Linked DNA regions of Homo sapiens. The protein of the gene in region 1 purifies or fractionates together with the protein of each later gene. This does not show direct contact. Each region holds a gene or a part of one and is shown in the gene's direction. Other genes may lie near its edges. The genes, in order: POM121C and NISCH.

Region 1 (3,819 bases):
GTTATAGTCCGTTGTCTTTGCTTTCTTTTAGTCTCATCTTCTTTGTTTCTTTTTAAAATGTCTCTGTTTGTCTTCCTTCCTTTTGATTAGTTGAGAATTTTTTATGATTCTACTTTATGTCTTTTGTTGGGTTTTTAGCTATCACACTGTTTTGTTATTTTAGTGAGTTAGAATTTATAGTATGCAACTTTAATTGTCATAGTTTATTCTTAAGTAATATCCATTTTTCCTAGAATAAGAGAAGCTTACAATAGGACACTTCCATTTCTCTCCTCTTGGTCTTTACACCGTTGTTCATTTTATTTTTACAGGTGGTATCAGTGCCACACACTATCTATTACGTTGTTGTTAATTAAACTGTATTTATTTATTTATTTATTTATTTATTTATTTATTTAGAGACAGAGTCTCACTCTGTCCCCCAGGCTGGAGTGCAGGGGTGCTATCTTGGCCCACTGCAACCTCTGCCTCCTGGGTTCAAGTGATTCTCCTGCCTCAGCCTCCTGGGTAGCTGGGATTACAGACACCCACCATCACGCCCGGCTAATTTTTGTATTTTTAGTAGAGACGAGGTTTCGCCATGTTGGCCAGGCTGGTCTCGAACTCCTGACCTCAGGTCACCCATCTGCCTCAGCCGCCCAAAGTGCTGGGATTACAGGTGTGAGCCACCACACTTGGCCCAGGTATCTTTTAAAGAGATTTAAGTAATGAGAGAAAATACACAGTTACCATTTCTGGTACTCTTCATTCCTTTGTGTAAATCTAAATTTTTATTTGCTGTCATTTTACTTCTGCCTGAAGGACTTTCTGTAACATTTCTTCTAGTTGATGATGAATTATTATATGTCTGCAAATGTCTTCATTGTGTCTTTGCTTTTAAAGGTGTTTTTGCTGGATTTTTCTCCACAGTGCTTTAAATATGTTTCTCTGTTGTCTTCCTGCTTACATTTTTTTCTAAGAGAAATCTGATCTCATACTCATGTTTGTTCCCCTATATATAACATGTCTTTTTTTCTTCCCCCCTTATTGTTTTAAACTTTTTATCACTAGTTTTGGACAATTTGATTGCAATATGTCATGGTATCATTTTTTTCATGTTTCTGTTTTGGGGATCATTGAACTTCTTGGATCTTGGGTTTATGGTGTCATCACTTGGGGAACATTTTTATCATTATCTCTTCAAGTACCCGCCACCTCCCCTCCATTGATTCTTGTTGCCTGTATATTAGGCCACTTGAAATTTTCCCACAACACACTGTTGCTCTTTATTTGCTTTTAATTCTTCTTTCTCTGTTTCATTTTATGTAACTTCTGTTGCTGTCTTTATATTCACTAATCTCTTTTTTCCATGATGCTGTTCATCTTTTCCAGTATAATTTTCATCTCAGATATTGTACTATCTGTAGAAGGTTAGCGTGGGTCTTTTTTACATCTTGCCTGTCTTGATTTTTTTGAACATTTGGAATAGAACGATGAACTCTCTCAGTGCTCTGTGCCGGTTGTGAACTCTGTGTCAATTCTGGGCCAGTTTTGATGGACTGATTCTTTTCTTCCTTATGGGTTGTAATTTCCTGCCCATTTTCCCATCCCACAACTCTTTCTCCTCACATCTGCCTCGGTTCTTCTTCCCTGCTCCATGGCCTGGAAACGCTCAAGGCAGAAGTTGATTGGTTCACCTTGTTTATTTCCCATCACTCATAGATAACTCTACTGCCTGATAATCAGTGCCTTGAAAACCACTGCTTCAGCCCAGGCGTGGTGGCTCATACCTGTAATCACAGCAACAACAACAAGGCTAAGGTGGGCGGATCACGAGGTCAGGAGTTCAAGACCAGCCTGGCCAACATGGTGAAACCCCATCTCTACTAAAAATATAAAAATTAGCCGGGCATGCTGGTGCACGCCTGTAATCCCAGCTACTCGGGAGGCTGAGGCAGAAGAATTGCTGGAACCCGGGAGACAGAGGTTGCAGTGAGCCAAGATTGTGCCATTGCACCCCAGCCTGGAAGACAAGAGCGAGACTTCATCTCAAAAAACAAAAAACAAAAACAAAAACAAAAAAACAAATCATTGCTTTCGTATATGTTCTTGTTTTATTTTTCTTTCTGTTTTTGATTTTGTTGTTCTTTGGTGTGTGCTGTTTCAGGTTGGAGGGTATATCCAGTACTTGTTAATTTATCACACCTGAGGGCAGAAGTCCTCATGTCTCTGTCTATATGTTTTTTCTAATATATATATTATTTTCTTTGTAGAGACAGGGTCTTGCTATGTTGCCAAGGCTGGTCTCAAGCTCCTGGCCTCAAGCAATCCTTCTGCCTCAGCTTTCCAGAGTGCTGGGATTACAGGCATGAGCCACCACACCTGGCCTGGGTCCAGTTTTATCCATGTCCAAATTTTTTTTTCCCTGAGCTATTTTTGATTTTCTTCCACCTCATATGAACTGTAGTGTCAGCTTATCTAGTTCCAGGAAAAAGCTTTTTGGTATTTTTATTGGGATTGCATATTTATAAAGTAATTTAGGGAAACTGGTATCTCTGTATTATTAAGTTGACCTTAATACTACAACTAATTTTGTTGTTGTTTTTGGATTTTTAGTAGAGATAGGGTTTCACCATGTTGACCAGGCTGGTCTTGAACTCCTGACCTCAGGTGATCTGCCCGCCTCGGCCTTCTAAAGTGTTGGGATTACAGGCGTGAGCCACCGTGCCCAAGCACTTTTACTTTTTCTTAGTTATATTCCTCTAATTGTTTTCTCTTCTCTAATTGTAGATAATGAGCATTTTATTAATACCTTGTTCTTGATCTTAGTGGGAAGATATGTAGTTTTTCCCTGTTAAGTAAAATCCTGACTTTCGGACCGAGAAGACTGAGGCATAAGAGTGTGTGTGTGTGTGTGTGTGTGTATACACGCAAACTGTATATATGTGCTTGTGTGTAATTGAAATACATATGTCACATATCATACGTACTATGGCATATTAGGGTGTAATATTTATATTTGTGTATATAATATTGATGTTAATGAAGTATCCATCAGTTTCTATTTTCTTTAGTTTGTTTTTTTAAATCAGCTTTTTCTGTCAAGCTTTTTCAAGTATCTTCATGGATACAAGATTTTTCTTCTTTGCTGTGTTATAGTGGCTTATCATATTAATAGATTTCCAAATATTAAACTAGTCTATATTGTTGGAATAAGTCCTATTTGTCTGTTGTATATTATGTTTTTAATCTGGTACTGGATTTTGTTTGGTTATGTTTCATTTTGGGTATTTGTATTGATGTAAGTGGTATTGACATGTAATTTTATGTTATTTATTGGTCGATCAGTCTTCTAACCCCCACCACCTCCTTGCCTTCTGGACTAAGTTAACCCAGAAAGTTATTACTCTCTCTCGGTGATTTTATCAGCTCCTTTGGCCTGCCTGTGGATAAGCTTGGATGTTCTGCTTTAGTTTCTCAGCCCACCAGCCTAGCAGCTCTGCCTCTGCTATCTCTTGGGATCTACATGGTCCTAGCTGTATCACTGGGTTTGAACCCCTTGTTGATATGTTCTTTATAAATAACAGGATAATGCAACATGCTTACTGGGCACTTCCTTTTTCTAAACTGCAAGTTTGGGCAGGGCATGCTGGCTCAAGCCTGTAATCCCAATACTTTGGGAGGCCAAGGCAGGTGGATTGCTGGAGCCCAGGAGCTTTGCATTTTTCTTTTTTTTTTTTTTTTGAGACAAGGTCTCGCTCTGTTGCCTAGGCTGGAGTGCAGTGTTGCATTCACAGCTCACTGTAGCCTTGACCTCCCAGGCTCAAGCCATCCTCCTGC
Region 2 (3,819 bases), on another chromosome or scaffold:
GTACTACTGCAGGGAGGGGCTGTGCAAGTGCTGACAAGCGCCTGCCCTCAAGCTTCTTGCCTTGGTCTTACATAGGCACAGAGCCTCTTAGTCTGTGGTTGATGTGCTTATGTTTTTTTACAGCTCGTTGCAGAGAGAAAGATTGATAAAAATCTGCTTCCGCCCAAAAAGATAATTGGGAAAAACTCAAGAAGCTTGGTGGAGAAGAGGGAGAAGGATCTGGAGGTCTACCTCCAGAAGCTCCTGGCTGCCTTCCCTGGCGTGACCCCCAGAGTACTGGCCCACTTCTTGCATTTTCACTTCTATGTAAGTTCCTCATCGGGTTTTCACCTGTGCCTGCAAACCCACAACTGCCAAACTTGAGGCAGCAAACCAGGGGAGACCTCAGCTTTGAGGTGGGCTGGGGTTTGACCCTAGGTTAGAAGATGGAGGAACGTCACCCTGGTTAGGAATGCATTGTGGCCAGAAGCATGTTAGTTGACAGATTTGCCGTAAATTAGACTAAATGTGGCCACAGAGATGCTTTCCTCCACCACAAGGCATTTTGTTTAGCAAAAATGGCCTGTGGGTGTTTAAGCTAGGTTTCCATCCAGATGGATGAGGCTGGATTAGAAATAGCTGACACCTGGGATAGACTATTGTTGAGTTGTTGGTGCATAGCCCAAAACTAATTAAGGGATTAGTCTGTGATGGTGGAATATCACCATCTTGGGGCGTGTCATCAGGGTCCGCGCTGCCAGGGTGCTAAGGTTGAGGGTGGACACCTTCCTGTGATGGGAGAGTGTGTCATAGAACAGCTCTGTACTCCGTCCTTGAAAGAGGAACAACTTTCATAGGTTGCCGGTGACAGAATGCGTTGTCAGACTTTAAGAAGGGCACTTAGGCAGTGTGAAACCACAATATTTGTGCTTTTGAGACGGAGTCTTGCTCTGTCACCTAGGCTGGAGTGCAGTGGTGCGATCTCGGCTCACTACAACCTCCGCCTCTTGGGTTCAAGCAATTCTCCTGCCTCAGCCTCCCGAGTAGCTGGGACTACAGACTTGCACCACCACACCCAGCTAATTTTTGTATTTTTAGTAGAGATGGGGTTTCACCATGTTGGCCAGACTGGTCTGGAACTCCTGACCTCAAGTGATCTGCCTGCCTCAGCCTCCCAAAGTGCTGGGATTACAGGCGTGTGCCACCGCACCTGGCCAAAACCACAATATTAAATAGCAGTTCTATTTATGAGAATTTCTTCTAAGGAAAAATCAGGCAGCCGCAAAAAGGATATATGAACAAAGGTAGTCATTCCAGGATTGTAACAAAATAGTAAGGACAACCCTAAAGTCTAGTAGAAGAGGTTAAAAAAAAAAAATCAGGCCAGGTGCAGTGGCTCATGCCTGTAATCCCAGCACTTTGAGAGGCTGAGGTGGGCAGATCACTTGAGGTCAGGAGTTCAAGACCATCCTGGCTAACATGGTGAAACCCTGTCTCTACTAAGAATACAAAAATTAGCTGGGTATGGTGGCAGATGCCTGTAATCCCAGCTATTTGGGAGGCTGAGGCAGGAGAATCGCTTGAACCCAAGAAGCAGAGGTTGCAGTAAGTCGAGATCATGTCACTGCACTCCAGCCTGGGCAACAGAGTGAGAGTAAGACTTCATCTCAAAAAAAAAAAAAAAAAAAAAAAAAATCAAAGGGTACAGCCAGGCTGAGCACAGTGGCTCATGCCTGTGATCCCAGCTCTTTGGGAAAATAAAACAAAAAAGAAATCTGCAGCTCCACCATCATTATCCCAGCAGCACACCAGTCTTCCCAGCAGACACTGTCTCAAAAAAAATGCAACTTTCTTAAGCAGTATCCAACTGTATGGCTGTACTATTTTTTTTTTTTTTTTTTTGAGACAGGGTCTCACTCCATTGCTCAGGCTGGAGGACAGTGGCCTGATCATGGGTCACTGCAACCTCAAACTCCTGGGCTCAAGGGATCTTCCTGCCTCAACTTCCCAAGTAGCTGGAACTACAGGTGCATGCCACCACACCCAGCTAATTTTAAAAATTTTTTTGTAGAGATGGGGTCTTGCAGTATTGCTCAGGTTGGCCTCAAACTCGAACTCAAGCCATCCTCCCACCTCTGCCTCTCAAAGTGCTTAGACTGTAGGTGTGAGCCACTGCACCTGGCTGACTATGGTCTCATTTTTACAAAAAACAAGTTGATATGGACATATTTGTCTAGGAAAATTCTAGAAGGTTTACGTATACCAAAATGCTAAGAGTAGTTTTCTCTGAGTGATAGATTTTCAGATAATTTATATTTACTTGTTTTCCTTTTATATGATGAAGACAGGGAAGAATCCACTCCCTTTTCAGGCTCACCTTGAAGTAACCTGTGGATTATGGTCCTAAAAGCCCAGCTGTATTTAAAATACAACTTTCTTGGCCAGGTGCAGTGGCTCACGCCTGTAATCCCAGCACTTTGGGAAGGCCCAGACAGGCAGATCACTTGAGGCCAGGAGTTCGAGACCAGCCTGGCCAACATAGCGAAACCCTGTCGCTACTAAAAATACAAAAATTAGCTGCGCGTGGTGACTCATGCCTGTAGTCCCAGCTACTCAGGAGAGAGGCATGAGAGTCGCTTGAACCTGGGAAGGGGAGGTTGCAGTGAGCCGAGGTTATGCCACTGCACTTCAGCATGGGCCACAGAGACTCTGTCTCAAAGAAAAAAACAAAAACAGAAGAAACAACTTCCTTAAACTCTTTTCAGAGTAAGACAGTTGAACCTTTCTTGGATCACTAAAGAGCCTAGAAATTTGGTGGCGAGTGCTAACCTGGGGCCACTGAGCTTGGCAGGGACAGGTGGAAAAGTAGATAGCATTCACAGATGGGACCTGTGTATATGCTTTGGATTTTATTTAGCATATACCAGCAAGTATAGGGTTAGCAACATACCCTTTCGTAAACATATTTTTATACTTTCTTATGTGAGAAAAAATTTGCATTCCTTATGCAAGTCTTTCAGATAAACTTTACTGGTTAGTATTTTAAGAAATAATGTACTTTAAAGGCCGGGCGCAGTGGCTCACGCCTGTAATCCCAGCACTTTGGGAGGCCGAGGCGGGTGGATCACGAGGTCAGGAGATCGAGACCATCCTGGCTAACACGGTGAAACCCCGTCTCTACTAAAAATACAAAAAATTAGCCAGGCATGGTGGTGGGCTCCTGTAGTCCTAGCTACTCGGGAGGCTGAGGCAGGAGAATGGCGTGAACCCGGGAGGCAGAGCTTGCAGTGAGCCAAGATCGTGTCACTGCACTCTAGCCTGGGCGACAGAGCAAGACTCCGTCACAAAAAAAAAAAAAAAAGAAATATTGTATTTTAAGAAAGCTTTGGTTAGCCATTTAGGGATGAAACCTGACATGCAGTCCTTTGACGGTATTAATTCCTTGCTTGAGACCTATGCCTTTGAGGAGAGGAGGTCTCGCTGGCTGCCTCACGTGTGCCTGGCTCTGAGGGTGGAAAGGCCTGGACTGCTCTTTTGAAACTGGTTTGCCTGAGATGTGCCTGGGGCCGGCTACATCTGGTTCTGGTTTGAGGCAGGCTCCGCTACTTGTAGAAGTTTTGACATATTTGGAATTAGTATTATCAAACAGGTCCCTAGGTTATATAAATCCTAGGATTTAAAAAAGCAATTGAACCCATCGTTGGATTAAACCCACAGTTGATCAGCCATAGCACTGTTGACATTTTGGACTGGATAATTTGTTTCTGTAAGGAGCTGTCCCATGCATTGTTTAGCAGCACCCTGGCTTCTACCCACTGGATGCCAGTAGCACTTCCCCAC

What was found.
Region 2: the proteins of POM121C (region 1) and NISCH purify together in Homo sapiens (affinity purification with mass spectrometry, with the first as the bait; one large-scale study listed by BioGRID). This does not show direct contact.

What each region holds. Positions count from the first base shown.
Region 1 is NC_000007.14:75,476,195-75,480,013, reverse strand, and holds part of POM121C (nuclear envelope pore membrane protein POM 121C), read left to right. Parts: intron 1-3,819. UniProt on the Homo sapiens protein: Essential component of the nuclear pore complex (NPC). The repeat-containing domain may be involved in anchoring components of the pore complex to the pore membrane. When overexpressed in cells induces the formation of cytoplasmic annulate lamellae (AL).
Region 2 is NC_000003.12:52,458,539-52,462,357, forward strand, and holds part of NISCH (nischarin), read left to right. Parts: intron 1-123; coding exon 124-306; intron 307-3,819. UniProt on the Homo sapiens protein: Acts either as the functional imidazoline-1 receptor (I1R) candidate or as a membrane-associated mediator of the I1R signaling.